Linked DNA regions of Homo sapiens: region 2 is linked to region 1. The links come from fine-mapping of genetic effects on gene expression. Tissue or cell type: whole blood. Region 1 holds a variant in brackets; the other region holds the start of a gene. All regions are shown on one strand. Distances are between the middles of the regions. Region 1 has its middle 19 kb from the start of PDZD8. Region 2 holds the start of PDZD8 (PDZ domain containing 8).

Evidence for each region.
Region 2: it holds the start of PDZD8, and the variant in region 1 is fine-mapped to the expression of PDZD8 in whole blood (INTERVAL, PIP above 0.99).

The regions. Positions count from the first base shown.
Region 1 is chr10:117,386,680-117,402,904 of GRCh38, forward strand. No RefSeq gene overlaps it. Among named protein-coding and RNA genes, the nearest start is that of PDZD8, 19 kb to the left of the region's middle. The variant A/G (reference allele first, on the strand shown) is at 9,304.
Region 2 is chr10:117,366,774-117,382,998 of GRCh38, forward strand. PDZD8 (PDZ domain containing 8) reads right to left here and starts at 8,667. Exons shown (of 5, transcript NM_173791.5): 1 at 7,583-8,667. The coding sequence starts at 8,454. RefSeq lists silencers at 8,158-8,337, 8,438-8,757 and an enhancer at 8,988-9,107.

The DNA of each region.
Region 1 (16,225 bases):
TGCTTTATCTTGATGACTGAGTTTTTTGGTGCCCTCTTAAATTTTGTGCCCAAGGTGAATGCCTCACTCCCCTCACCCTAATCCTGGTCCTGCTTATCAGCCAAAGGACTCATTTGCAGCCCCTCTCTCCAACACACAAAGATCTGTCTTATCTTCCTTATTCTTGCCATTCTTGCCTAGCACATAGTGGGTACTTCATAGGTATTTGTGGGCACACGAATGAATGCTGTTTCTTCCTACCACAACAGCCTTTGGTCACCCATCCCCCTGCCTATTTCCCAAACAACTCTTACTTGGCCTTTTTCAAGATTGAATTTGAGTGTCACCTCCACCAGGAAGCTTTCCCTGATTGCCCAGAGCTCCTTCCCTCCTGAACTCCTCTAAGTCTGGATAATGAGCTTCTTCATTGTACTCAGTGCACCCTGAATGCACTTAGGAAATAACAGTCTTTACAATATTCTGAGGTTCCCTGTTAGTTGCTATGAACCACAAGTCTATTTGTGAGCTCCTCAGGAGCAAAGTCGGGGGGTTTCTTATCTCTATATTCCAGCCTCAGTACCTTCTAGGGAGTATGCTCATAGGACGGATGGAGAAATGTATATACGTATGGGTGGATGGATGGGTGAATGGATGGAAAAGTAAGATCTGTTTTATGATATAACTGGTAGTAGACTGCAAGGGAAGTCTGTATTGAAGGGGAATGAGACTCATGTGGAATCTTTGCTAGAATCCAGGTAAGAGTTAATCAGGGCTATCAACCTGAAATAACAGAAAGGATGTGAATCCAGTTTTAAAGAGTCTATTCAAGAACAAAGCTGAGAATAGCCATTCAGGTAACACAGACTCCAAAGGAATGGGATCAGTGCTCCAAAGTTACAAGTTAAAGTCTTGCTTATACAGGTAGAAAACAAAGAAATTAGTAGGATTACAACATTTTGTACATAAGGCTGGTTTATGAGTTGCAAAAATTTGGTTACTTACAGTTTGTTTTCTTTTCCATATGGCTTGTTTTTATTTCCTCTCCAATTTAAAAGAGTATATTTAACATTCCATCTCAAGACAATGAGATAATCATAAAATCTTTGTGTGAGAGGGAAGAAGGAAGTTAATCTATAATGATGATCAACAGAGAAGAGGGAAGAGGTATTCCCTGGCACTCTTGGGTCATTTGCAACATTTTATGAAATAACATAGGTAAGGAAGAAGGCTAATCTATAATCAGAAAAACGAAGGTTACAGCTGCCTACCTTACAGCTGCCTGTCACATGGCTCAGACCCCATAATCACATTCCTTTAAGGCTCAAAATAACTTAAAGTTCCAACAGCTCGGATTTCAAATTACTTATTTTCACAGAGCCCAGATTAAGGCAGTGGCAGTAGGTTGGATATAAGAAACATTTTAGAGGAAGAATCAATAGAATTTGGCTGGGAATAAAGTGGATAGAGAAGAAGGATTCAAAGGCAACTGAGATTTTGCAACTGAGTAGGAAGTTGAGGGTTCCCTTATCAAAGACAATGTAGGAGGAGCAGACCTATCACCTGCACATGGACACTAACCCAGAGAATGGGGATGATCTTGGCAAGGAAACCCAGAGAGATGCTGTGGCCTCTCTCAAGCTACCCAGCAAGACAGTATCACAGCCCGGATCATAATCCTGGGGTCCTAACTCCTGGTGTCTCTTTTTCATCTTGTCCTCATACTTTTTCCATGCTCGCTTCACAAAATATTGGTTATTTTCTCTTTCTCAATGGAAGTGAAAAACTGACTCTAATAACACTTTCAGGAGAGTCTAACAATAGCTGTAAATTCTATCTGCTTTACACTTTAATACTGTTACTTACCAGTCTCAAAACTGCTTATCTTTCATTTGAGGCTGTTTGCTAATTTCCATTCTCCTTCACTACAATTCAGAACCTGAACTAAACCCTGGAGTTGTGAGGCTTCGCAGAAGGTCATTTTGATGGGTCCCCTTCCTGGGACAACAATAATCAAACCGTTTTTAGATAGCCGAGGCCTTAAATCAGCATTTATATTCCTCGTAAATTGTTGTGCAAGCCAGTCCACTTCTCTCCATCCCCTGAAATACCCCAGTCTGGGCCATTGTTATCTCTTGCTTTAATCCTGCCATTGCCTCCTAATTGGTCTACCTACCTTCGGCTTTCCTCGCCTTACTTTATTCTCTACTCTGCCCTCAGGACACATTAAGCTGATTCCTCCTTAAAGTTTTTCTACAGCTGCCCTTAGGCTTAAGGATGAAGTACTAGTTCCCAGTAACATCCTTCAGGCCTTTCACAATCCATCCCTTCACTTTCCCCTTTCCCCGTCACAGAGTTTGCTCCAGCCTGCCTGAGCTCTTGTGCTTCCTCCTGTGCTGACTTCTTTCTGGTATCTCCAGGCCTTTGCACATGCTGCTTCTTCCACCTGAAACTCTCTGCCTCTTCTCTTTGCAGGTAACCCTACCCTTAAAGTGTAGACTGAAATCTTCCTCTTTAGGAGACTCCCCTGGCCCTAACCAAGGCTTATCCCTTGCTATATCCTCATATAACATCCAATATATGTTCCCTCATCCTGGTGCTTATGGCAGAGACTGCTACTTGCTTCGTCCATATCCATTCACTCATTTCAAAGAAGAATTTGGGAACAGCAAATTGTTCAGATTTTAAAAATGACATTTCCCAACCAGCCTTGCAGATAAGAGTGGCCAATGAGATATAAGCAAAATTTTTGGGTGGGAGCTCAACAAAGGATTTTGATTTATTATCTCCATATCTCTTTTGTACTTCCCTCTCCCTCCCCTGGCCTGGAATTCAGATGTGATGGCTGGAACTTCAGTGGCCACTTTATAATCATGTGGTAACCTTGAGGATAGATGCCACACACTGAAGATGGTTGAGCAGAAAGACAGAATAAGCTCAGAACACTGATGACACTGAAGCTGAACTCAACTTTGCAATACCCACCTTGGAACTTTTTTTTTACATAAAAAAATTCCCCTTAAGCTGTCAAACTACTATTACAGGTCTCTGTTACTAGCAGCCAAATACACTCCTGACACAGTATTCACCACACTTTACTATCATCACTTGTACAATGTGTGTCTTGTAAACCACAGTTTCCCAGCACTCAGCACAGGGCCTCGCCCATAGTAAGTACTCAACTGGTATTTATTAAGTGAATGAATTTACATGACCTACTCTCCACTTTGGTGAGAAAGAGCCACCTTCTCCTGAAGCCCTAAGACCACTTGTTTGAAGGAAGAGGCTTTGTAGAGGGGAGCCAACACTGACACCAGAACGTCCTATCATGCTGGGAGAGGAGGGATCACTGCTGGCTCTGCTCCTCTGGCAAAGCCAGGGAAGGTAAGTAACTCTGGAAGAGAATAACATTGCTGCAGCAGCAACATGCTTGGAGATGGCAAGTCCTTGAGACTGCCAGTGGATCTAAATCTACTGTGTGGAGATCAGTGTAACTTTTGGGGCCCAAGAGCATATTCACCTCATCTCTACTTTCATTCAGTCCTTAGGTGATCTCATCCAGCCTCCTACCTTTAAATGCTATTCATATGTGTATGCTTCCAAATGCATTTACTCACTCTGAGCTCCTCTAGGAAACCCATATATCCAACAGCCTACCAGCCATCTCCACCTTGGTGTGAGATGACTTACTGTGTGTAAGACTGAGCGAATATCCATCCCATGAGAGTTCCTTGGGCATTTCCCGCCATATTTATCAATGGTACCTCTGTCATTCCAGTTGCTCAGGCCAAAAGCCTTGTGCTATCCTTGACTCCTTTCTCTCTTATCTGCATTCACACTTGCAACACATCCTATTGGTTTTACCCTCAAAATATATTCAGAGTTTCACCACTTCTCACCGCATTCACTATCATGGTTCAAGCACCATATTTGGCCTGATTATTGGAGTGGTCTCTTAGTTGGCCTCTCTACTTAAAGGTCTCTCTGGCCTTTGCTACCCTAATGTCTGTTTCAACACAGACACCACAGTGACCATGGTAAACCACAAGTCGGATCATGCCACTCAACTGTTTGAAACGTACCAGTGGTTTCTTGTGGGGGGGCCCAGAATAATGGCCCCCAAAGTTGTCCACATCCTAATCCCCAAAACCTGTGGATATATTACGTTACGTGGCAAAGGGGCGTTACTGTTGTGGGAGGAATTAAGGTTGCTAATCACCTGATCTTCAGATAAAGAGATTATTCTGAATTATCCAACTGGACCCAATGTAATCACAAAGGTCCTTAAAAGTGGAAGAGAGAGACAAAAGAGAAAGTCAGACTGATGCAATGGGAGAACGATTCAAACTGCCACTGCTGGCTTTGAAGATGGAAGGGAACTAAGAGTAAGGAATGCAGACAGCTCTAAGGGCTAGAAAGGCAAGAAAATGGATTATCCCCTAGAACTTCCAGAAAGTGAGGCAGCTCTGCCAACATCTTGATTTCAGTCCAGTCAGACCTGCTAGAGGTCTGACTTTAGACCTCCAGAATTATAAGATAATAAACTTGTTTGTTTTAAGCCACTAAGTTTGTGGTCATTTGTTATAGCAACTGCAAGAAACTAACACACTTCCCCATCTCATGCGATGTAAAAACCAAAGTCTTCATAGGGAAGTCCAAGGCTCCAAATGTCTGGGTCCCCGTTACCTCTGTCTGCAGTTGTGTCTCCGGCTTTCTGCTGCATTCACTCTGCACCACACCGCCCCTTGCCACACATCTTTGTAGAATGGATGAATGATTTTAAAACTTCACTTCCAGAGGACAGAGGAGAGGTGACTTGCCCAGGGTCCCCCAGCAGGGACTTGAACCCAGGACTCCAGCCCTGCCACAGTGGGTTACCATGTTTATTGTACTTAGCTTTCACTTCAGCCTCCTCCCCAAAAAGTCTGTGGTTAAATCTCCCCAGCCACCTACTGAAGTGCTTGAATTCCCTCCCAATGAGGAAATCCCTGTTGTAATCATATCATTCCTTGCCATAAGAGTAGCTCATTTCCTGCTGTATGAAATTCAGCATGGAAACATTTTCCCTGTAAATGGCAGGGGAAGAAATTCCCAGGGCATCAGATTGTACTGATCAATACAGGCAAATTCTTTAGGAGGAAAAGACAGTCCTGGCTTTCCTTCAGCCAAGGAGGTTTACTGGGTGGGTTCCTGTTTATACAGGAACAGGATGGAGAGTGAGCTACATAGAAACCTGGATGAGATTCTGAGTATTGCTGCCAACATCAAGCTCCACTTTTGCTGACTTATCATTTATATTTGCAAGTGAGAAGGTTTGATTGGTTAACTTGCTGCCACTCAGAGGAGGGCCCCCCGCTGGACCTTTGTGTGGAGTCACCTCAGAGCTGATCAGCCACCCTCGTGTCTGGCACATGTGTGTTGTAAGCTCTTCCCGAGACTGATCTCTGGTCTGGTCAGCTGTTGCCAGGACAGCGGAACTGGCTTCTCCTGTAAAGCTTGTGCATACCAGCCTGGCAGATACCACAGGCATGGGTTGCTTAGATTCTTTTGTCTGCCTAACTTTGCTTTTCTTTTCTTTTTTCTTCTCTTCTCTTTTCTTTTCCCCTTCCCTTCCCTTCCTTCCTTTCTTTTTTGAGATAGAGTCTCACTCTGTCACCCAGGCTGGAGTGCAGTGGCACGATCTTGGCCCACTGCAGCCTCCACCTCCTGGGTTCAAGCGATTCTCTTGCTTCAGTCTCCCGAGTAACCGGGACTACAGGCGGCCGCCACCAAGTTTTGCAATTTTTGGTAGAGATGGGGTTTCACCTTGTTGGCCAGACTGGTCTCAAACTCCTGACCTCAAGTGATCTGCCCGGCTCGGCCTCCCAACGTGCTGGGATTACAGGTGTGAGCCACCGCGCTGGGCCAACATTCCTTTCTTTTGAAAACTCCCCTCTTCCCTTCTAGGCTGTTCTGAAGTTCTCAATTCCAGGCCCACCCCTTGGCCTTAAGGATAGGCACATGTCCCAGGTCTGGCCAATTTATAGCACCTGATCCCTCTGACAACAATGATTGTTCTAGAGAAGGTGGGCATGTGACTGAGCAGGGCCACTCACAATCTAACCCCAAGATGAATGTACAGGCTTAGGGAAAGAGACACTCTCTTTCTGCTGGGGTGCCTAAACTGGGAGAACATGAACCTGAGGTCACTCAGTGGAGCATGTCTGTTTGTGCAGGAAGCCAAGCAGGATTAAGCAAAGATGAGAGGCAAATGGAGAGATGGTTCTCTATGCGGTGAGTTCCTGAGCCAAGGGCTATGGACTCTTTTTTCTGTTGCTCTTTTTTGGCTTCTCTGAGTCACCTACTGCCCTTCCCAGCTATGTGAACCAACACATTTTCTTCCTGCTGTATAGCTGGTTTATATTGTGCTTCTGTTATTTGCTCCCAATTGATTTTGACCAAAATAGGGGCTTAGGTAGGAAGAAACTGACTGTGACCACTTGCCACAGGCAAGAAAGACTTAGAACCCATTTATGAGGAGATTAATGCCACAATTCCCTTATAGGGATCTTTGGAAGGACTGGCCTGGCCTGGGATATCCTTACAATGTAAGTATATATTCAACTCCTGAATGTGCCTAATGAAATCTGATCCTGTTATTCCCTGTCTCCTTCAGTCTTAAAACACTCTGATGGTTTCCCGTAGCTGTTAAGACAAAGATCACAATCATCAATGGGCCTGCAAGGTCTGACCTCCACCATCTGGTTCAGAGGTCTGAAAACTTTTTATTAAAAAAAAAAAATCTACTTTTTTTTTTCTTTTATCTTCTTTTTAAATTTTTTTTGAGACAGGATCTCATTCTGTTGCTCAGGTTTGGAGTGCAGTGGCGTGATCACAGCTCGCTGCAGCCTCGACCTCCCAGGCTCAAGTCATCCTCCCATCTCAGCCTCCTGAGTAGCTGGGACTACAGGCTCATGCCAACAAGCCCAGTTAATTTTTTTTTATTTTTAATTTTTCAGGAGAGATGAAGTCTCTCTATATTGCCCAGGCTGGTCTCAAACTCCTGAGCTCAAATGATCTTCCCACCTTGGCCTCGCAAAGTGCTAGGATTGCAGGTGTGAAACACTGCCCCTGGCTGCAAACTTTTTCTATAAAAGGCAGACAATACATTTTCTAGACAGCATTCTGAATTTCTTCCCACCTTTGTGGGTCATAATGTCTCTGTTGCAACTACTCAGCTCTATCATTGTAGCTGAATTCAGCCCATGGGCCATAATTTGTTGACCCCTGGTCAGGAATGGTCGGAACCTTTCATCCAAACACACATCCAGCCTCACTGGCCTTCTCTCAGAATCTTCGTATTCCCACCCATAGGCTCCCTCTCCTCATGGGGCCTCTATCCAAGCTATTTTCTCAGCTTGGCTATTCTCCCAAATCTGTGTATGGTTAACCTTACTTACCACCTGGATCCAATGACAGGTTTCCAGGGAAGTCTTCCCTGACACTCTGAGACTGGGCCAGATTCCCCTAGCACATACACACCTTCCTAGCATTCTCCATCTCTCCTGTATGGCATTCACCATGGTTGTAATTTTTAGGATTTTCATGTTGGTTTGCCCTCTGTCTTCCTACTACGTAGGGAACCCCATAATGATGAGGCACTGTCTTTTTTTTATTACCTAGCAGAGTGCTTAGTACATAATAGGAGCTCAATATATATGTGATTGAAGAAAGAAAGAGAGGGAGAAAAGAAAACAGGGAGAGAAAGAAGGAGAAAGAAAGATGGAGGGAGGGATAAAGAAGGAAAGAAGGAATCAGCCCTTTGAATTTACCTGTTCAATGACTGAGAATGAGAATTCAAAGTAATAAAAGTAAATGGAATATTTTTCTTACTCATCCATTGCTGAAATCAGAAGAACATGAAGAATTGGTAAAAACTGGCACTTCTCCCTACCCATTCAGACACTTGGTAGCTTTTGGTGCTTGGGTGACATCAGATCTCTAGTCAGACTGGAATCAGGAGGCCTTCTCCTTGCCACTCTTCCTCCCAGCACCTGGACCCTCCCAGTTGCGATCATGTGTCCAAGTTCCCCACAGGGATGCCCATCAAGGTCACCTCTCTCAAAGTGCCTTTTCCCAAAGTTACTCAGGCCTCCTGGGATCAAATCCCAGCTCCAGGACTTAGGGGTTGTGTGACCACGAGCCAGTCATGGAAACTCTCCAGGTTTCTGGTTCCTCTCCATAAAGTGGGGATACCATTAAAAAATGGGCAAAGGATATGAACTGACACTTCTCCAAAGAAGAGATACATGTAACCAATAAGCATATTAAAAATGCTCAACATCACCAATCATTAGAGAAATGCAAATCAAAACCACAGTGAGATACCATCTCATACCCGTCAGAATGGCAATTACTAAAAAGTCAAAAAAATAACAGATGCTGGTGAGGTTGTAGAGAAAAGGAAACGTTTATACACTGCTGATGGGAATGAAAATTAGTTCAGCCATTGTGGAAAGCAGTTTGGCGATTTCTCAAAGAACTTAGAACTACCATTCAACTCAGCAATCCCATTATTGGGTGTGTACCCAAAGGGATAGAAATTGTTCTACCACAAAGGCACAGGCATATGTATGTTCATCACAACACTATTCACAATGGCAAAGACATGGAATCAACCTAAATGCCCATCAATGGTAGTAGACTGGATAAAGAAAATGTGGTACATATATGCCATGGAATACTACATAGTCATAAAATAGATTAAGATCATGGAGCTGGAGGTCATTATCCTATGCGAATTAGTGCAGGAACAGAAAACCAAATACCATATGTACTCACATGTGGGAGATAAACTATCACAAGTGGGAGATAAAGATTGAGTACACATGGACACAATGAAGGTAACAATAGACAACACAGCCTACTTGAGGGTGGAGGGTGGGAGCAAGGTGAGGATAAAAAAACTACCTATGCTTATTCCCTGGGCAATATGCTACCTGGGTGATGAAATAATCTGTACACCAAACCCCTGTGACATGCAATTTACCTGTATAACAAACCTGCACATATACCCCAGAACCTAAAATAAAAGCTAAAAATAAATAAATAAATAAAGTGGGAATAATGACATAGGGTTATTGGGAGGATTTAATGGCATAATATGTAGAAAGTACTTAACACAGGGCCTGGCACATATTTAGTGTCAATAAGTTAGCTATTATTAGTTAAATTTTTAAAAAACTCTATCTGATCATCTGATTATAGCAGTCAGGCTCATCTTCAACATATGTGGGGCCAGGGCTAGAGTACAAATGGTCTAAATATTTAAAATTATAACTAAGTGGC[A/G]TGCGTTGTAGTCCCAGCTATTTGGGAGACTGAGGCAGGAGGATTGCTTGAGCTAAGGAGCTTGAGGCCAGCCTTGGCAACATAGGAACCCTATCTCTATTAAAACAACAACAACAACAACAAAAATTAGCTGGGCCTGTTGGCTCATGCCTGTAGTTTTAGTTACTTGGGACACTGAAGTAGGAGGATTGCTTGGGCCCAGAAGTTTGAGGCTGCTATGATTGCACACCACTGCACTGCAGCCTGGGTAACAGTGAGACTCTGTCTCTAAAAAAAAAAATTAAAAAAAATAATAATAACAAAATAGAAAATTATAAATCAAGCTGCAAAATACATTTTTTCTCCCCCTACATTGACAAATACGACTTCATAATGGAAATTTTCTTTTTAAGTTGGAAAACTATAGTTTTTATCTGACTGAAAGTCTACAAAATATCAAGAATAACTGAATTCAGGTATTACTGTGTACGTGCTATTGATGGCCCAGAAATATTTGAATGAGTGATAAAATAAAGACATATATCATGAGTCATTACATATTTCATAAATTTTTTTTCTTTCACAGCAAGAAAAAAACTAATTATCTAATTGCAATTAAAGTATGCAAATAATTTACATTCCATTGATATGATCCAAAAGATTAAAACATAAAATTATATTCAAAAAGTATCAAATTTTAATATATTTCCATCAAAAATGTAAAATGAAAGTAAATGTAATAGTTAAAGTTGAATATTTTTGAAAAAAATTTTTAAAGCATGAAAAATATTTACATTAAAAGGCAAAGTAGAGGGTCGGGCATGGTGGCTCATGCCTGTAATCCTAGCACTTTGGGAGGCTGAGGTGGGCGAATCTCAAGAGATTGAGACCATTCTGGCCAACATGGCGAAACCCTGCCACTACTAAAAATACAAAAATTAGCTGGGCGTGGTGGCGTGTGCCTGTAGTTGCAGCTACTCAGGAGCCTGAGGCAGGAGAATCACTTGAACCCAGGAGGCGGAGGTTGCAGTGAGCCAAGATCGTGCCACTGCATTCCAGCCTGGCTACAGAGTGAGACTCCATTTCCAAAAAAAAAAAAAGGGTTAGGCGAGGTGGCTCATGCCTGTAATCCCAGCACTTTGGGAGGCTGAGGCGGGCGATGGTTCACCTGATGTCAAGAGTCCAAAACCAGCCTGGCCAGCATGGTGAAACCCTGGCTCTACTAAAAATACAAAAATTAGCCAGGCATGGTGGCAGGTGCCTGTAATCCCAGCTAATTGGGAAGCTGAGGCAGGAGAATCTCTTGAACCCAGGAGGCGGAAGTTGCAGTGAGCCGAGATCGTGAGATTGCACTTCAGCCTGAGCAACAGAGCGAGACTCCGTCTCAAAAAAAAAAAAAAAAAAAAAAAAGGCAAAGTAGAAATTATAAATTAATGAGTGTAAAAATTATAGATGAAATTATTTCAGTAAAGTTACATTTTTTGTTTAAAATTTTAACAGTGGAGTTAAATCATAATAAATACTTTTACAAAAATAAACTATTCAGTATTCTAGCATTCACCGTTTTAACTTAGTTGCCAATACAAATAATCAGTACTACATGCACTTATTTCATGCCTAAAATTACAAATCATATCTTCAAGATGTCAATCATGACATTGGGTTATGGATAGTTGATACGTGATGGTTCTACTACAGCCTAACCACATGGTGACATTTTATTATGTGATTCGTGTAATTCATGAAGAGTTTAGGAACCACAAATGAAAGAAATAAAATGAAAAGAAAAGCTCAGCATGACAGGGAATGATACTATGCGAAACAAAAATCTGTTTTATTCATGCTCTCTGGGAGGAAGAAATTGACAAGTTAATTAATTTGCTTTTTCTCTTCCTAATGGTCCCTACCACTAAAATGCTCTCTGCCCTCTGAAGCTGTGTCCATCTCTGATGTTGGCAGCAGCAACCCAAAAACCTTTATGACCTTCAGGACAGGTAGCCTTTGTTTTGAGGATAAAAGGTAAGAAATATGGAAAAGTGTTCCCTAGGGCTTGAGCAGCGTTGGTGCCAGGAGCAGATGTTTAGGATTAGGGGTAGTGATATGCCAGTGCTGAGCACCAGGTCCCATGTGACAAAGGAACACACATGTTCTTTAAGAAGTGTGTATGTGTGTGTATTAGTCTGTTCTCATGCTTCTATAAGGAACTACCAAGAGGTCTAATTGACTCACAGTTCTGCAGGCTGTACAGGAAGCATGGCTGGAAGGCCTCAGGAACTTACCATCATAGCGGAAGGTGAAGCGGAAACAAGCATGTGTTACCATGGCCTAGCAGGAGACAGAAAGAATAAAGGGGAAGCGCTACACACTTTTAAAGCAACAAGATCTCATGAGAACTCATATACTATCATGAGAACAGCAAGGGGGAAGTCTGCCCCCATGATCCAATCACCTCCCACCAGACCCCTCCTCCAACATGTGGGGATTACAATTTGGCCTGCGATTTGGGTGGGGACACAGAGCCAAACCATATCAGTGTGTGTGTGATATTATGGGGTCACCCTTCTCTTTCCCAGGTCTGAGGGCAATATGGAAAGGAATACCCTGGATAATTGACTGATTGATAGGTCATCTGGGGTATTTGCATTGCAAATAAGCACTTCTGCGTAGTCCCCAAAGAAGCCCTGGGATGAAGGGGGCCTTAGAAGGTGGTTTTGAACTGAGAGACTTCTTGCCTACATTGGCCCTTTCTGCCCGCCACACATCAGAAGAATGAGGTTCAGCAGCTGGGCATCTCATTCTGAGCCTGCACTCTGTACACTTTTGCTAAGGAAAAGTAGAGTCACATTGGTTAAGAAAATACATAGCAATCAAGTGTCTTAATTCTTTTTTTTTTTTGAGATGGAGTTTTGCTCTTGTTGCCTAGGCTGGAATGCAATGGCGTGATCTCGGCTCACCGCAATCTCTGCTTCCCGGGTTCAAGCAATTCTCCTGCCTCAGCCTCCCATGTAGCTGGGATTACAGGCGCACGGCACCATGCCCAGCTGATTTAGTATTTTTAGTAGAGATGGGGTTTCTCGATGTTAGCCAGGCTGGTCTCGAACTCCCAATTTCAGGTGATCTGCCCGCCTTGGCCTCCCAAAGTGCTGGGATTACAGGTGTGAGCCACCATGCCTGGCCTAAGTGTCTTAATTCTTAATTACCTAATAGCAGAGTTTCAGGAGAGTACTTTGACAAATAACTTAATAATAAACATATCAGAATGAAACAACTAATAGAAAAGGATAAGATCCTGATCTTCAGAAAATGCCAACACTTTTGTTTTTCTAAGTCATGAAAGAAATCATCAAGATATACTGCTCATAAAATGTCTACACATAAAGGTACCATTTATGAGCACAATACAACAGCCTAAGCCCTCCGATAAAAACTGAAGGAAGTGTAGAATTCTCATTTTATAGAGAAGGAAATGGAGGCACAGAGAGGCTAACTGGCTTGCACACGGTCATACAGCTGCTAAGTGGCAGGGGCAGTATTCCAAGCCAGCCACGTCCAGATTGTGACTGTGTAACCACCATGGCATACCAGCCCTTTGCTCTCTTCCACCATACATCCAAAGGAATCAGATAGTCAACATTAGCAAAGAAAAATTCCGTGGGACCCCTAGCTGACCATCTTTCTTCTGTGCACCCTTCAGTTTCCCCCAAAAGACAAATAAGTCTTTTTAGCACCATGTAAACATTTAATAAGCGTGTGTTAAATTTTCAGTTACAAAGTGTAAAGCAACATTTGCAGGCCTACCTTTCCTGTTGGGTAAAAACCTGACCACTGAACCATGGACTACCTCTTCCCTCTAATTGCAAAATGTTGACTTACTTCATCTTTTGAAGACCAATGATCTTTGCAAGGTTACTGTATGTTTAAAAAAAAAAGTGCCTTCAGGGCCTTGAGTCATAAGATGGGAAAACATGTTGAAGTGTTACAAAAATATTGACAGTATCTCTATGATTTTTCAGTATCTTTATGATTAATGAGATTTTAGGGCTGGACATGGTGGCTCACACCTGTAATCCTAGCACTTTGGGAGGCCAAGGTGGGCAGATTGCCTGAGCTCAGGAGTTAGAGACCAGTATCCTGGGCAACATGATGAAACACTGCCTCTACTGAAATACACACACAAAAAAAAAAAAAAAAAAAAAAAATTAGCCGGGAGTGGTGATGTGTATCTGTAGTCCCAGCTACTGGGGAGGCTGAGGCATGAGAATTGCTTGAACCCAGGAGGTGGAGGTTTCAGTGAGCCGAGATCACACCACTGCACTCCAGCCTGGGCAACACAGCAAGCAACTGTCTCCAAACAAAACAAAACAAAAAACCAAGATTAATGAGATTTTAAATAGCTTTACTGAGATATTTTTCACATACCTTAAAATTCACCCATTTAAAGTGTACAGTTCATTAGTTTTTAATATATTCAGAGTCGTGTCACCATTACTACAATCTAACTTTAGAACATTTTCAACGCCCTAAAGAGAAACCCATATCCATCAGCAATCACGCCCTATTTCTTCCCAACCCAGCAACCACAAATCACCTTCTGTCTCTAAGGATTTACTTAATTTGAATATTTCATGTGAAAGGAGTCAAACAATATATGGTCTTTTGTTACTGGCTTCTTGCACTTTGCATAATGTTTCAAGGTTCATCTGGTTGTAGCAGTTATCAGTACTTGATTTTTCTTATGGTCAAATAATATTCCATTATATGGATATATAATTTGTTTATGCTTTCATCTGTTAAGTGTTTAGGTTGCTTCAACTTTTTGTCTATTATGAATAATACTGCTATGAATATTTGTGTACAATTTTTAGTGTGGATGTAGGTTTTCATTTCTCTTGGGTATATACCAAGAAGTATAAACCCTGGATCATATGACTTTATGATAGCTCTATGTTTAACCTTTTGAGAAACTGCTAAACTTTTTTTCAAAGTAGCTGTACCATTTTACTTTCCCACCAGAGAGTATGAGGATTCCAATTTCTCCATTTGTTTGCCATCACTTGTCTTGATTTTAACCATCCTAATGGATGTGAGGTAGTATTCGATTGTGGTTTTGATGTGTATTTCCTTAAAGTCTAATGATGCTTTTCTTTGGATAAACGTGTTTTCAAATCTTTTGCTCATTTTTAAATTGGGCTATTTATCTTTTTATTACTAAGTTGCACGGGTTCCTTATAAATTCTAGGTACAATTTCTTTCTCAGATATATGTTTGCAAATATTTTCTCCAATTTTGTAAGTTTTCATTTCCTACTTTGATAGTGTTCTTTGAGGCATAAATGTTTTATTTATTTATTTATTTATTTTTATGACATAGGGTCTCACTCTGTTGCCCAGGCTGGAATGAAGTGGCATGATCATAGCTCACTGTAGCCTTGACCTCCCAGGCTCAAGTGATGCTCCCACCTCAGCCTCCCAAGTAGCTGGGACTACAGGTGTGTGCCACCGTGCCCAGCTAATGTTTTGTATTTTTGTGGAGATGGGATTTCACCATGTTGCCCAGACTGGTCTCAAACTCCTGGGCTCAAGTTATCTGCCTGCCTTGGCCTCACAAAGTACTGGGATTACAGGTGTGAACCACTGCGTCTGGCCAATGTTTTTAATCTTGATAAATTCAAATTTATCTATTTTTTTTTCTTCTGTTGCTTGTGCTTTTGGTGTCATACCTAAGAAGCCATTACCTAACCCCAGGTGACCAAAGATTTTCTTCTGTTTTCTTCTAGGAATTTTATAGTTTTAACTCATACATTTAGATCTGTAACACATTTCAAATTAATTTTTGTGTATGGTGTGAGAGAGGGGTTCAACTTTATTCTTTTGCATGTGGGTGTTCAGTTGTCCCAGAACCATTTGTTGAAAAGACTGCTTTTCTTTATTGAATTGTCTTGGTATCATTTCAAAAATCAATTGGCCATAAATGTGAGGTTTTGTTTCTGAACTTTCAATTCTATTCTGTTGATCTCTACGTTCATACTTCTAGCAGTACCATGCTTTTTTTTTTTTTTTTGAGATAGAGTATGGCTCTGTCACCCAGGGTGGAGTGCAGTGGCATGATCTCAGCTCACTGCAACCTTTGCCTCCCGGGTTCAAGCAATTCTCCTGTCTCAGCCTCACAAGTAGCTGGGATTACAGATATATGCCACCACACCTGGCTAATTTTTGTATTTTTTAGTAGAGACAGGGTTTCACCATATTAGTCAAGCTGGTCTCAAACTCCTGACCTCAGGTGAACCATCTGCCTTGGCCTCGCAAAGTGCTGGGATTACAGGCATGAGCCACCACGCCCAGCCCCTTCTTTATTATTGAATATGTTCTGTCCTCTCCCCAGGCATTCTGAACATCGCTTCCTTTGGACCTCACTGTTCTCAGTACATATTCCTACCCTTGCCTCTGTCACTCTACCATTTCCTTAAATTTGCTAATATGCCTGTCACTCCAACTAGATTGTGCTCCTTGAGGGCAAGGACTATAATCTTACCTGTCTCTATAACTCCAGGTCCAGGAATTCAAAGTGTGTTAAGTGAATGAATTGGATACATTTGGTATATATGAACTCCTGTGGGTAGAAGAGCACACTCTTGGGAGGCTGAGGCAGGAGGATTGCTTCTTTCACTCAGGAAGCAGAGGTTGAAGTGAGCCAAGATGGTACTACGGCACTACAGCCTGGATGACAGAGAAAAACCCTTCACAAAACAGAACAAAGAAAAAAACAAAACAAGAAAAAGGAGAACACACTCAAATTTTACAACTGTTAACCCTGCAAGGCACATCTGCGGGCGTGTTTTTCTTTTACAAACTGAGGAGGAGCTTTGGTCATTATTGGATTTGTGGATAGGTATTGGTTTATTAACAGTCTTGTTGGGCTTTATACATACCTACTTAAAATAAGT
Region 2 (16,225 bases), 20 kb before region 1:
TTTTACATTTAGGACTTTATATCACTAATCCTCCGTAAATCGCATATTTCCACATCTGTAAAACTGAGATACCAACCTCTCCCACATAGGAGTTTTAACTATTGAGATTGCAACTGCATGGAAATGCCCACACAGTGCCTAATGAATACTTAGCAAACAGTGTTTTATTAGCCCCACCCTGCTCATATGATAGATTGTTAGTAATACTTGTAAGTCAACGTTTAGTATTTGATCAGGCATGCTCCTTCAACACAATCTACTTTATAATGATCTGCTTTGGCTATTTCCAGGAAGAAACTGTGGCTTTTTGGGATAGCCAATATACTTGTACATTACTGATTTGAATTTATAGCCTCCCGGCAGGGTGTGAATCACACCTGTAATCCCAGCATTTTGGGAGGCTGAGGCGGGGGGATCACTAGAATCCAGGAGTTGGAGACCAGCCTGGCCAACATGGTGAAACCCTGTCTGTACTAAATATGTGAAAATTAGCCGGGTGTGGTGGCATACGCCTACAATCTTAGCTACTTGGGAGGCTGAGGCAGGAGAACTGCTTGAACCCGGGAGGTGGAGGTTGCAGTGAGCCAATATAGCGCCACCGCACTCCAGCCTGGGCAAGAGTGAGACTCCGTCTCAAAACAAACAAACAAACAAACAAACAAAAATTATAGCCTCCTCAAAATGACTATTCTCCCCTCAATGAATAAATCAAATTTCTAGAGCAAAGATGTAATGTATCAATACATTATTCTCCATCTAAAGTGTTTTAAAAGCTGAAATTAAAATAATTCAAAGCAGCTGGAGGAAATCCAATGTGCAAGAAGTAAAATCAGCACTAAACTGGGTATTTAGGTGGAGTACACTTAGGTGTGCTAAGAAAGCTAATGTGGTGGCTCATGCCTGTAATCCCAGCACTTTGGGAGGCCGAGGCAGACAGAGCACCTGAAGTCAGAAGTTCAAGACCAGCCTGCCCAACATGGCAAAACCCCATCTCTACTAAAAATAAAAAAATTAGCTGGGCATTGTGGCACACGCCTGTGGGAGGCTGAGGCAGGAGAACTGCTTGAACCTGGGAGGCGGAGGTTGCAGTGAGCCGAGATCATGCACCTGCACTCCAGCCTGGGCAACGAGAGAGGAAAAAAAAAAAAGCTAAGGTCACAATGCATTACATACGGTACCACAGTAATCAGGTGTTTGCCTTAGCAGAGCAGAGATATTGATCTCTCCTGTTCCAGTTTCTCACAAAACTGAAGGGCTTAAATATTTCCAATGCCACTAAAATAAGCTTTATGTGTTCTTTGTTTTCCCTAGAAAGACTAACCCTATAATAGCATGAACTAGTTTATAACCATTTTTATCACGTTTACTATACCCACCGCAACACTAGGTAGTATGCACTAAGCACTTACTGAAGATAAATGACTATTTTTTAAATGACATAATTATTCATCTCTAAGACAATGATCTTGCAATTCAACTTATACAGAGATATGACGAGATATAGAGATATGAGCAACAGTACAAGAAAAAGCACAACAGGTTAAAAATTAGCTATTACAAGATTATTCCAGCATAGCTAGAGTAATGCACAATGCCATTGTCTATTCTCCCCAAATATTAAAGGTTAGATTTCCTATCAACATTAGTAAGTAAAACTGTCACTATTATAACCATCAAGGAATTTTAGTAGCTATTTTAAAATATTTTCCAATGTAATAGAAAGGAAAAAAGTATGAAAAAGTAAATAAATACAACATATTACACTTGACTTTACAAATGATTTTGTCAGTTTTCTGTGAATTTACTTTGAAAGATTTTGAGATACGGATCACTCAATTCATTAAATTCAAATATACTGTCAATAAGTTGATGCCCCCCTTTTTGGAGATCAGTGAAGTAAATGCTTACATAGTTATTAATGACCCATTCCACTAAAGCAAACTATCCACCAAACTCGAACAAAAAGGAGACACTATCTACTTACCATCACTACATGGTAGAAAAATGGATTGCATTTCAAGGCATTTTTTTTTTTCTGGCAGAGTGACTTTTTAAAATTCAACATTATATTGACAATGTTTTTTTTTTTTTTTTTTTTTTTTGAGACAGTCTCACTCTGTTGCCCAGACTGGAATACAGTGGCGCAATCTTGGCTCACTGCAACCTCCGCCTCCTGGGTTCAAGCAATTCTCATGCCTCAGCATCCCCAGCAGCTGGGACTGCAGGTGCGTGCCATTTTTAGTAGAAGCGGGGTTTCACCATGTTGGCCAGGCTGGTCTCGAACTCCTGACCTCAAGTGATCCACCCACCTTGGCCTCCCAAAGTGCTGAGATTACAGGCATCAGCCACCACGCCAGGCCTGACAATGTCTTTTATTTATTTATTTATTTATTTTTACTTTTTGAGATAGAGTCTTGCTCTGTTGCCCAGGCTGGAGTGCAGTGGTATGATCTCGGCTTGCAGCAATCTCTGCCTCTCGGGTTCAAGCGATTCTCCTGCCTCAGCCTCCTGAGTAACTGGAATTACAGGCATGTGCCACCATGCCCAGCTAATTTTTGTATTTTTAGTAAAGATGGGGTTTCGCCATGTTGACCAGGCTGGTCTCGAACTCCTGACCTCAAGTGATCCGCCTGCCTTGCCCTCCCAAAGTGCTGGGATTACAGGAGTGAGCCACCGCACCTGGCCAACAATGTCTTTTAAAAAATAAAATTGCTCTATGACAGTCCCTTCAAAAATGTAATTAAAAGAAGGATAAAAATGATCACTCTCCCTCTCCACTCCAGCTATTAAGTCTTCTCATTTTCACTAATCAGCAACAGTAATGCTCCCTATTTACTCCTCCAGTACGGGTCTCAAATTCATATAACTCCAAGCCAGGCAAGTACCATCAATTAAGCACAGCAAATAAGGGGGGACTATAAACTCCACCTAGGAGCTTACACACCGAGTTTCAACCCCAAAGCTGCTACTACAGTCCATCTCTCCATCCTGTTGTTGCTCTGAGAAATGCAGCACTGGCGCTACAAGATATTCCAATTTTTCCTAACAGAAGCCACAAATCCAAAACACACAGAATTTTCCATTTTTTAAACAGTGCAGGCCAAATTAAAAGTACCTGCAAACTGAATCTGCTTGTCTATATACAATAATACTCCAGGAACACAAGCATCCGTAAGAATCTCAAATATTTGACTCCTAAACCCTAAACAGAGCTCCCCACCCAGACACTATTACTCAGACTCCATGTTTAAGATGAATTATCCACGTAGTAAAAGAACATTAGTGGTAATCTTTCTCCCTTGAGGATGGATTCTGAGGTTCATTTAAAAAAATATATTGCTATTATAATATACTATTTTAATTAAAAAATCAAACCAATTAACATTGAGGTGGATGAATGAAATTCCTAACTTGAATAAATCTGTAAACATATTGTCTACATATTATAATTCATTTTGTAAAATAAAATGTTTTACAAACATTGTAAGTTTGTTAACTTGGGTAAAATGAAATGTCAGTCAGCTGGGTCCTTAGAAAGCAACCACTTGAGCAACTTAGCATCTCTAGGTGAAACATCAGGAACTGGCAGTCCAGAGAGGCTGATTCACTTTAGCAACACGAAAAAGGCAAAATAAATGAAGGGGGAAAGAAGTAATAACAACGTTAACTGGCAAGATATTTGTTATGTAATGATTACAAATGCCAAAGGATCGTAAGACTCCATACAATTCTCTTTACTGCTTTAGCTCTACTAAGAAGATTAGATAGCTAAAAAAGAATAAACTAGGCCGGGCACAGCGGCTCACACATGTAACCCCAGCACTTTGGGAGGCCGAGGTGGGTAGACTGCCTGAAGTCAGGAGTTCGAAACCAGCCTGGCCAACATGGTGAAACCTGTCTCTTCTATTTGGAAACACAATTCTGCTCAATTAAAAAAGAAATGCCACGTGGGACAGTACCCAAAGATTTAGCCTCATGATTTACTTTTAAAAGGATCCTCTAAAATGACCAATTTAAGAAAAAAAAATCAGCTTTATAGTCATACTCTTCTCAAGAGTTCTAGGTTAGTTTGGAAAGATATCCCACATATTTACTATATCGATGGCATGCTTTTAAAAAATAAATCACTTAAGAACAACATAGTTTGTGTGTGTGTGTGTGTGTGTGTGTGTGTGTGTGTTTAAAGGTGGCCTGGCCTTATCAGAGCTGCGTTTCAACACTTGAAAGCTGTGTGACTTTAAGCAAGTTATTTAACTACTCCGAGCTCCATTTCCTCATCTGTAAAAAAAGATGAACACTAGCTAGTTTAATTTTCCCTGTGAGAAGTATGCTATATCTTAGATGTATTGTAATTCATTCTTATCTGAAACTTGAATCAGTCCCACATCATCACCAGTTTGTTTATTTATTTATTTACTTATTTATTTTGGAGACGGAGTCTCACCCTGTCGCCCAGGCTGGAGTGCAGTGGTGCGATATCGGCTGGCTGCAACCTCTGCCTCCCAGGTACAAGCCATTTTCCTGCCTCAGCCTCCAGAGTAGCTGGGATTACAGGCGCCCGCCACCACGCCCAGCTAATTTTTGCATTTTTACTAGAGACGGGGTTTCATCAGGTTGGCCAGGCTGGTCTCACACTCCTGACCTTAAGTAATCCGCCTGTCTCAGCCTTACAAAGTGCTGGGATCACAGGCGTGAACCACTGCACCTGGCCCATCACCAGTTTAAAACACTGGACAGAACAGCTACACAGACAAGAAGTCATCACTTGCTGAGGCAGCCCTTTTCATCGTCATACTTGCTATTTTCTTCTACTAAGCTAAAACCGGCTTCCTGGCTACTTCAACCCCATCAATCCCATTCTAGTTTAAATCTTACAAAGCGCCGGGCAAGGTGGCTCACACCTGTAATCCCAGCACTTTGGGAGGCTGAGGTGGGAGGATCACTTGAATGAACCCAGGAGTTCCAGACTAGCCTGGGCAACAAAGCAAGACCTATCTCTACAAAAAAAATTTTTTTTTAATTAGCCAGGAGTGGTGGCACACACCTGTGGTCCTAACTACTTGGAAGGTTGAGATGGGAGGATTGCTTGAGCCCAGGAGGTCGAAGCTGCCGTGAGCCATGATCCTGACACTGTACTCCAGCTCTGGGCAACCGAACAAAATCCTGTCTCAACAAACAAACGAAAAACACAAAAAAATTACTAAGTATAGCTAATTCAATTCTCACTAGACTCTAAGCTTCCTGAGGGCTGAGTTCAAGTATTGTTCAGTACTGAAATCCCAGCATCTACAACAAGGATAAGCATATAGCAGGTGTACAATAAACATTTACAGATTGAGTGATATGCTCTGTGCAGCTGACTGAGCATTGAGATGCCATCCAGTATAAATAGCACAGATGTGCATACTTCTGGAAATGATCATTTAATGCTTCACATTTAGAAGTTGAAATATCATAACCAAATTCATGCTGTTTTTAAAAAAATCCCTTCAAAGTGAAAAGCAATTTTGCCATACTTTTAAATGGTTGTTATTCAATGATACAGATAATAGTTTTTCAAAGTAATAAACTTCTCAATGCCTCCATAACTTATTCATAACTTACTTCAGATTTACCTAAATTCCAAGTCTACATTAAAAAAAAAATCTCAAAATGATATGTAATCTCACTGTCATTGGCTAGTCTACAAATTTCAAAATAATAATCTAGTCAAATTGTATTAACTGAAAGCTATCAGAAAACATCATAATTGAAGTTGTGATAGAATACCAAAATTTCTAGCAACTTTTTCTCATGACTTTTTTGGCAACACACTGCTATAAATAAACATCTCTCACTGCTTAAACACTAGAACCGAGTTATAATTTAATCACTGATATTCCAGAGGTTAAAAGTAGGTTTCATAAAGTATGTTCTACTTCACAGAACCAGAAATCGAACACAGTGAACAACCAGTTCACCACCCTCCGCAAATCTATGGAAATATTTCCATTACAAAGTAAATTTCTCCTGCCACGCAAGTTTTAAACTGTCACTCTGCGCTGTTAGCCTAAACAAAACATAATTGGTAAGGTACATCTGCCACATACAGAAGTCAATAATCCATTCCAAACCCAAAATATTTCTGGATTATCTTGCTCCTGAAAATTGACACTGGTAGAAAATTAGTGATCCAGAAATAGGCAACTTCCACTAAAAGGCAAGTAAAATTAGGTAAGTAAAATACAAGACTGACATAATTTTATAATAAAGGGCAAAATTTTAAAGGCTCAAATGTCTTAGTGAATACAAAATTAAAGGAGGACCGAAAGAGAAGTTAAAAATTCAGCTTTTTACAAAAGAAAAAGCACCTTCCACTCCACCTCTAGCCCTAAAAAAGTCTTTCCCCTTCCACTCCTACAATATTAAAACAAAATTTATATACTACTCAAAACTGTATACCACAAAATTTAAGCCATCAGATGCTGGAAGGCTTAAACAAAATTAAAATCACTACCTAGCATTAAAATACAATTTGTACAGTGACTTCAGGTCCCTTGAGAGAAGAACTTACAGTCACAGAGAGTAAATGCTTGATGGGCAGAGTCTGGATCTGTGTTCTACAATCTACCCAAAATGGGCAAATGACATTAATACAAAATGTAAAGTACACTATGTACAGGCTCCCAACTCCTTTCCCATCTGCTGTGGAAAGTATTCCCGGGCCGGGCGCGGTGGTTCACTCCTGTAATCCTAACACTTTGGGAGGCCGAGGCAGGCGGATTACTTGAGGTCAGGAGTTCGAAACCAGCCTGGCCAATACGGTGAAACTCCGTCTCTACTAAAAAATACAAAAAAAAAAAAAAAAAAAAAAAAAATCAGCAAGGCGTGGTGCCATACGCCTGTAACCCCAGCTACCTGGGAGGCTGAGGCAGGAGAATCGCTCGAACCTGGGAGGCAGAGGTTGCAGTAAGCCGAGATCGCGCCACTGTACTCCAGCCTGGGCGACACAGCAAGACTCTGTCTCAAAAACAAAAACAAAAAAAACCCACAAAAGTATTCCTTTGCAAGAGTTACCACCTCTGCCTTGAAAGGTGTCAAACCATCAAAGCAAAAGTGGCTTGCAATGTCAAATTAGCACAGACCTGGGCTATAAGCACACTCTTCACGCGTGTACTGTGTCCAGGAACAATTTCTCAAAGCGGCCAAGGGGATGCTGCAAAGCCAGTGACGCGGCTGCCCTCAATGCAGCAACCACATAGAGGGAGAGTTTCTCAACAGTCCCAGAAGCGACTCCTGGGGATTAGGGTAGGCTTCCCTTCCATTTCCAATATGCTGCTTATAAAAGGAGACGATTCTGCCCGCGTTGACAGCACCCTGAGTCCCCATGAACACGCGAAAAGGTTTCTAGCTCCTATCAATGCCGTTCGGAAGCAAAGCAAGTGTTCACGACTCGCCTTGATCTGGGGCCCTGTCCAGGGTGGGAAGGCCCCAGAAGCAGGCGCCAGGACAGAAATGAGCCTTTGCCCTTCCCAATCCACGCAGCGTCCCGCCCAGGCCCGGGTTCCCGGCAGCCAGGCCCCCTCCCCGACCTCCAGCTCACCTGATCTTGTAATTCGGTAGGGTGTGCTTGCGCTTGATGATCTTCTTGAGCTGGTTGACGATGATGGAGGTGAGCTGGGGCATGGGCCGCCCTTCAAACTGGGAGCGCACCTCGAAGTCGATCAGCGGGTCTTCCACGAAGGAGAAGAACCAGTGGGTGAAGGGCACGCGCGTAAAGACCAAGCGCAGCCTTCCCACCACGCGGGACAGCTTGACAAACAAGTAGGCGGACTTGCCGAAGACCAGGTCCACGTCGATGGCCAGGTGGAAGCCCCCGTTGTACTCCACCTCCGCCTCGAAGGCCAGCTCCTCGGGGCAGGCGGCGGGCAGCGCCTCCCCTTCAGGGCCATCGGGCTCCCCGGTGGCCGAGGGCACGACTGGCCGCACGAGCCGGATGGTCTTGATGAAGGGCACCGTCTCGCCCAGGAACACGTCCCGCAGGCTCAGCCCCTCCAGCAGGCGCCCGGCCGTCTTGGTCTGCAGCAGCTCCTCGAACTCCACCTTGATCTTCTTGGTGACCCAGCGGCGGGTCAGCGCGGTGTCCCGCAACTCCCGGAACAGGAATAGGATGGTGGCGTTGAGGAAGTAGCAAGTCTCCCGCGTCGGCGGGGCGGGGGTCTCGGGGGCCGCGGTGGGGGTCGCGCCGCCCTCAGGGGCCGCTCCGGAGGGCTCCTCATCCCGGCCGCCGCCATAAAGGTACTCCCTTAGGAGCAGGCCCGGCACTGGCTTGATGTAGCGGAAGCCCTCGCCCGCGCGGGCGGCCTCGTCCGCCGGCGGCTCGGGCTGTCTGCGGTACAGCAGGAAGAACTGGGCGAGGAGCGTGAGGAAGGAACCCAGCACGGCCGACGCCAGGATCATGAGCAGCAGCCCCATCCCGCCACCGCCTCCGCCCGGGCCCCTACTCCCGCGCCCACAGCGCCGCTTTCTTCACGCCGCCGCCCCCGCTGCCTCCATTTTGAGGACATCGGGCGGCTGGGTCGGGGCGAGCGGCTCCGTGGGCCTCGTCCAGGGGCTCGGGCCGGCGCGCTGCGGCGCCCGAGCCCGCAGCGGCCCGCGCCTCCTCAGACGCTCCCGAAGGGCCGGTGTGGCGGCGGCGGCAGCGGGGCCGGGACCGGCGCCTCCCTCAGGCCTCCACTCATTGGACGAGCAGCGCGTGACGTCAGAGGCGTGCTCGCTCCCGGCGGCGTCGCCCAGCAGTCGGCGCCCGGGCACGCGGACGCGGGTCCTCCTTTACTTCTCTGCGGCCCTTCCAACCTCGTCCCCCCACGCCAACATTCCAATCCCCGCGGCGCGCGCCGCCACCCACGTGGCCGTCACTTCTGGAGCTGCGGTCGGGATCTGGGAGGACGGCTGGGGACGCGGGCTGGAGGATAAGGCGGTCCGGCGGAGCGGGCCTGACGCGTTCCGGATGCCGGCCATCCCGTTATCCTCGGCTGCGCCCATCCCCCGTCTCTGGCCGCAGTCCCCGCGGTTACCTCTGCAGCGGCGTCGCTCATCCTGCGGTGTGCTTCTTCCACTCGCACCCGTGACAGCCCGGCTGGCAGCGGCGCTTTCCCTGCGGGCAGCACCGCAGACGATCCGAGCGGGCCTTTCGGACGCTTCCCAAGCCCACGGCGAGAGGGGACCGACTGCCTCAGAGGCAGCCATCGCGGACCTGCCGTCCCCCCGGCAGACGCTCTGCGTCCGCGGAGGGTGGGCCCTGGGAAGGAGGGACGCAGGGAAAGGGCGCGCCACGCGGAATGACTTTCCCACCGAGGTGGATCTTCGAAATTTCAGGGAGGAGGAAGTTGAAAGAACAGCCAGGAGGAGAGATGCATAGTGAAACGAGTTTGCCAAGTGATTGGAAGATTAATATGCGACCCGCTGTCAGTCTCTGGTTAAGCCGGTAGTCCATCTATGAGGCAGTTATTCACTGTTAGCCCCCACCCACTTGACAGATGCCAACACTGGTGCAGAGAGCGTGGGGAGGTTGCGTGGGGCCGCAGAGTGGAGCCTGGTTTATCTAACACTAAACCCTAATGTCTTGATCACTACTCTCTGCCCTAACACAGAAACTGCTTCAGTTGTAAGCAGGCCAGTGGGTTCCCTAATGTTCAGGAAGGGAGAATTGGGGAGGCGGATTAGGGAAGACGGCAAGGAATTTTGCATAGAGTAGCACCTTAACCAAAGCCACGAAGCTAAGCCAGGTTGCCCAGCAACAGCGTTACTCCTCCTGCCCTCTGACTACTTAGTGGTTACATCATAAATGCTTATCCCTCCAAGCACGTGGAGTTCCAGTCCTGCAGGAGTCAGATATCCCATACCTTAAAGGCCGATTCTGGCTGTACCTAAGGAGCCAGGGCAGGGCTCCTCTCTAGCCCTTGAAAACCTTCAAGCCGGCCGGGCGTGGTGGCTCACGCCTGTAATCCCAGCACTTTGGGAGGCCGAGGCGGGCAGATCACGAGGTCAAGAGATCGAGACCAGCCTGGCCAACATGGTGAAACCCGTCTATACTAAAAATACAAAAATTAACCGGTCGTGGTGGTGCGCGCCTGTAGTCCCAGCTACTCAGGAGGCTGAGGCAGGAGAATCACTTGAACCCGGTAGGCGGGGGTTGCAGTGAGCCAAGATCACGCCATTGCACCCCAGCCTGGGCGACAGTGCAAGACCCTGTCTCAAAAAAAAAAGAAGAAAACCTCCAAGCCAAGGATTCTCTTAACTGTAGGTGATTCTACCACAAAAATAGACCTGACCCAGCTGGGACAGGTACAGAACTTCGGAACCAGGCTTATCATGCCTTACCGAATCATGCCCAGATACGAAACCAGAATGGCTTTCATTACTATGAAGACATAAGATAGGTGTCTGCTGAGGAACCATGCTCAAACCATGGCCGAGATTTTTCGGAGATCTTGGCAACTTCTGTTCTCTGGTCCCCTTTGGTTCCTGGCCTCTGCTTCTGGGCTGCTCTCTGGGATCTACACTGTTTCAACTCAAATGAGAAATGTAGACCCTTCTATGATTTCCACCGTAAACCTATTCATAACATTCATGCACATTGCATATTATAAATGTTACAGAAGCTGGAAGTAGGGTGGCATGAAAGAAGTTATTCACATTCCTGAAATATAAAACCCTCAAACTGTATATTGATCCATCCCGAGTTGCAAAATATTCTTCACCCACCTCCCTCCTCAACAATGAAAGTTTGTGGTCTTCATGGGAATGAGTCCTCAGTCTTCATCTTGCAGACTCCTTTCTTTTCTCTTCTCCTCTCACTTCTGCGCTCCTCAGAATACCTGTGAGAATCTTAAATCTTCTCAGTTTGTTTTACAGAGTCAGAGTCATTGCATTCCCCAGCAAAACTTGACCCCTTAGGGACACACTTCAAATCCATGAAAGAGCTCAGCAAACCTTTTGGGAAGAAAAAAGTATTCTCCCTTGTGTGAAACATGACCAACATTGATTAAACACTAATAATAATAATACAGAGAACTGACCATGTGCCAAGCACAGTGTTAAGCATGTTATTTAGAAATATTTAAATATTTCAAACATTATTTAGAAATCAAAATATCATGAGTTTTTGTAAAGTCAAATATGCAGTCATGCACCATAGAAGGATGTTCTTGTTAACGACAGACTGCCTATAGGATGGTGGCCCCATAGGATTATAGTACCGTATTTTTACTATGCCATTTCTGTGTTTAGAGATGTTTTGATACACAGATACCATTGTGTTATGGTTGCCTACAGTATTCAGTACAGCAACGTGCTGTATAGATTTGTAGCCTAGGAACAATAGGCTATACAATATGGCCCAGGTATGTAGTAGGGTTTCCCATCTAGGTTTGTGTAAGGACACTCTGATGTTCGCACAATGATGAAACTGCCTAAAGATTCACAACTTATGTCTGTTGTTAAGCCACACTTGACTGTGTTTGATAAGTTAGGAGATAATGCTCTGGATAATATTGGTGTTAGCATGCCCTTTATTTTATGAAATTATACTATGTTAATAGAGACGAATTTGTTTTAATGCTATTTTCTGGAAAAGGATAAATTCAGCAACCCCTCCCTTTTTTTCTTATATTAATGCTGGTTCATAGAAACTCAAAAGCCTGAGAACCACTGGCCCCAGCTCTGAAGATCGATGATTCTGAATAGGTTTTTAAAGGAAGCAGTTGTGCTTAGCCTCCCTGCTGACTTTTTAATGTGTTTTAAATGACATCATTGAAATTAAGCTGCCCCAACAGCCTTCATGGAAATATCCATTTCAAGGTCGAAGTCAGTTGAATACTGGAAGATGGGTTGCATATAAGACATTCTCACCAACTAGAGGGATGCATGGACCACTGCTTGACTATGAATCATTCCTGGTGACCGCGAAAAATAATGAGAAAGCCAAACCACGTAAATGTGCAAAGTTTGTGAGTAGCATGAAAGCAAATTTGATTTTTTGAAAGATGTAAAATAATGCAAATATAGTGAAATATGGTGGGAAACATAGAGTTTATAAGGTTTGCCTAACAAATGATACATCAACAAACCATTTTGTGAACTGGGAGAATTCAAATTCCACAACTATTTTTTGAGCATCCAACAAGTACTAGGCTCCAGGGATACTGAATGAACAGGGGCGCTGCGCCCCAGGTGGAAGCAGACACACATCTGCATAACTCTGATGATAGGAGATAGTGCTCTAATAGAGGCACATGCAAGGTACTATGGGAGCAGAGCCTTCTGGTTCAGGGGCAGTGACAATTGATTGCAAGGAACAGCAACTACCTCAGGCTAACTTACAACTAAAATTGGATTCACGTTAAGGATGCTGGAATATCTCCAGGAACTCAGCTGCAAGATGTTCATAGAAATCCTAGAGTAAGAAAACTGTCTCTCACTCTCATTTCCTCTGCCCCCACCCCTACCCAGTATCTTATTTCTGCATCTCCCTGCAGGTCTGTGCCATTTTACTCCAGAAGGCTCTTGGTTTCTACTTCCCCATTACCCTCAGCACACAGGCACTTTGGGAGGCACCAGCTCTCTATCCAGATCTAGAGGGTCCTATGTCTCTGATGGCTAAGGTAGCCTGCAAGCTCAATCTCAAATCCTGGGAGAGAAATCTCCAATTGGCTGTGCTACTCCAATAATTTATGACCAAGGAGCTTGCCTCTTCTGGGCTGCTGGTGGGTGGGGCAACTTCTTCAAGGACTGGGAGAGGATTGAGAAGACATGATGGGCAATACTAGCTCAATAGGGGATAAGAGATTAATTCTTGCTGGGGAAGGTGGGAGGCTTTTGGGGCAAATGGAATTTGCATTGGCATTTAATGATTAGAAGGGCATTCTAATCAGAAGGAGACAAAAACTCAGAAGATGGAAACCCGCCAGTTTGGGGAAATTGAGACCAGGATGACTGGAAGAAGGTAGTACGAATAGGTTGGTGCATCAAGGAGAGAAGGGAGATGGAGGTAGCATAATAAAGTAGACACAAACTAAATTATGGAGAGATTAAATGTCAGGGCAAGTTTTTATTCTATTTTGCAGTTTTTGTGAAGTCTTCAAAGGTCTTTAAGCTAGAGAATGGCATTAACACTTTTCCTTCCATCTCCACCTGCAAAACCTCAACCCTAAATGAATCCAACTATCTACCTCCTCCCCTCTACATTATAAATTTATGGTCTTCGTTCTTATTAAGGCCCTCAAGGAAACCCAGACATTTTTCTCCACTACCACATTTATCCATTTTTTCTCCATTACCAGCATCTTCTTCCATGTCCCATAACAATGCCATCAAACCTTGACCAGGCTCAGCTCTTTCATCATGCTCAGGGGAGGACCCTCCTCCCACTTCAGGGAGAAAAAAAGAGGCCCTTAGGCTGGGCTTTCCTCCGCTGCTTGCTTCCCTGGTCCAAGCTCACCTGCATGACACTCCCATGTTTTCATGCTTCTCTTCTGTGGCAAAAAACAACCAAAAAACAAAGCAAAAACTTTTTTGTCCAAGGGTAACCCTGATAATCCCCCTACTTGTGCCATGGATTCCACTCCCCTCCAGGGTCAATCTCCTCTCCCTCAACACATAAACCAGATTCACTCTCCACATCTTAAAAAATGAAAACGAAACAAATCCAGAGACCATCTTCCCTTAAGCCTTCCGACTTCCACTCTTTCTTGCCCACAGAGTCAAGCTGTTTAAAAAGAGTACCCAATTCTGTCTGATTGCTTACTTCCCTTCCATTTACTCCTTAACCCTCCATAATCTGACTTCTGCCTGAACACCTCCCCATCTTGCCAAAGGCCAGCGACTTCTATATGGCCACAACCAATAGATGTTTTTGGTTCTTATCAGAGTTCTGAGGAACATCTGACAATACGAGCCATTCCTTCTTTCTTGAAATCCTTCTACTCATTGACACCATGAAGAGTATCCAGTCAGGTCGAACTTTAAACACATTCTCCCCTTTTTGGTTGTTAGCAAGAGAAATTACCACTCTAAAGTTGCCTGCCACTTCTGTGTCTAGAGCTAGTGATGTGAAGTTGCCTTGGAGAAAATCTGTGAAGAAATCTCTGGGTATAGGGTGACCAACTGTTCCAGTTTGCCCCAGAATGAGAGGGTTTCTGGGAGCAAGACTTTCAATGCTAAAATTAGAAGTCCTAGGAAAACTAGGACAAGTTGGCCACCCTACCTGGGTGGTACCTTTAAGAGTGAAAAGAATAGGCAAGTTGCTTCTTACCCTTCTGGGGAAAGAAAGTAGGCCATGCTGGCCCATACCCTCATATGCATAAGAGCCAAGGGACCGCCTGGGATTAAGGAGATCAAGACCCTGACTCCTATCTTTTTGCTTTTTTGCTTTTTAAAATAACAGCTTTATTGATATATAATTCATATATACACCCATTTAAAGTGTACAGTTCAGTGGTTTTTAGTACATTTACAGAGTTGTGCACCCATTGCTACAATCAGTTTTAGAACATTTTCCCCACCTCAAAAGGAAACCTTATATGCATTAGAGTCATGCCCTTTTCCTTCCTCCAAACCCCCTCAGCCCTAGGCAGCTGAATTTACGTTCCATCTCCATGGATTTGCCTATTCTGACATTCCACGTAAATGGAATCATACGATATATCATATTCTGTGACTGTTCTTTCACTTAGCATAATGTTTTCAAGATTCATCTACGTTGTAACATGTATTAGTACCTCGTTTTTTATAACTGAATAATATTAAATTGTATGAATATAACACAATTTGTTTATTCATTAATTGGTGGACATATGGGTTCTCACTTTTTGGCTATTATGAATAATGTTGCTATGGACATTTGCTTACAAGATTTTGTGTGGACATATGTTTTCATTTCTCTTGGGTATATACCTAGGGATTAAATGCTGGATGCTATTGTAACAGTAATTCTTAAGTTTTAAGGAACTGTTAAACTATTTTCCCATAGTCTATGTGGGTTTTGTTGGTTTATGTGAGTTTATGTGGGTTTTGTAGTTTATGTGAGTTTTGTAGTCTTGTAGTTTATGTGGGTTTTGATTTTTCCACATCCTCACCAACAGTTGTTGGTATCTGTCTTTTTAATAATAGTCAGCCTAGTAGGTATAAAGTGGTATCCCATTATGGTTAATATTTGCATTTCCCTGATGGCTAATGATGTTGAGCATCTTTTCATGTGTTTATTAGCTGTTTGTATTTCTTTGGAGAAATGTTTATTTAAATCCTTTGCCTATTTTTTTTTTGAGGCAGGGTCTTGCTCTGTTGCCCAGGCTGGAGTGTAGTGGCGTGATCTTGACTTACTGCAGCCTCTGCCTCCTGGGCTCAAGCAGTTCTCCCATCTCAGCCTCCTGAGCAGCTGGGACCATAGGTGCATAACATTGTGCCCACTTTGCCTATTTTTTAATTGGGTTATTTATCTTCTTCTTTACAGAGTTGTAAGAGTTCTTTATATGTTTTAACTACAAATCCCTTATCAGATATATGATTTGCAAAATTTTTTTCCATTCTGTGGGTTTTCACTTTCTTGATGGTGTCCTTTGAAGCAAAAAGGTTTTTAATTGTGAGGACCAATAAAGCAGAAAGATTTTTAATTTTGATGACCAATTCATTATTATTATTATTTTGCTGCACTTTTGGTGTTGTATCTAAGAAACCATTGTCTAACTTAAGGTCATGAGGATTTATGCCTATGTTTTCTTCTAAGAACTTTATCATTTTAGCCCTTACATTGTGATCTTTGACCTATTTTGAGTTAATTTTGGTGTCTGGTATGAGGTGGGGTCCAAATCTATCTTTTGCATGTGGGTGTCACGTTGTCTTGCACACTTGTTGAAGACTATTCTTTCCCCATTTAAATGTCTTGGCACCTTTGTCTAAAAATCAATGGACTGTAAGTGTGAGGGTTTTTTCCTGGACTCTAAATTCTATTCCATTGACCTATGTGTCCAGCCTTCTGCTAGTACCACACAGTCTTAATTACCCTATAGCTTTGTAGTAGGTTTTGAGATCAGGAAGCATGAGCCCTCCAACTTTGTTCTTCTTTTCCAAGATTGTTTTTGGTCCTTCTGACTCCTCCCTTTTGAGACTCAGCATTATTGACACATCGCTTATGAGTGGAAGTGGTCACTAAGGGCCAATGAAAGACTCAATAAATATTTGCTTAATG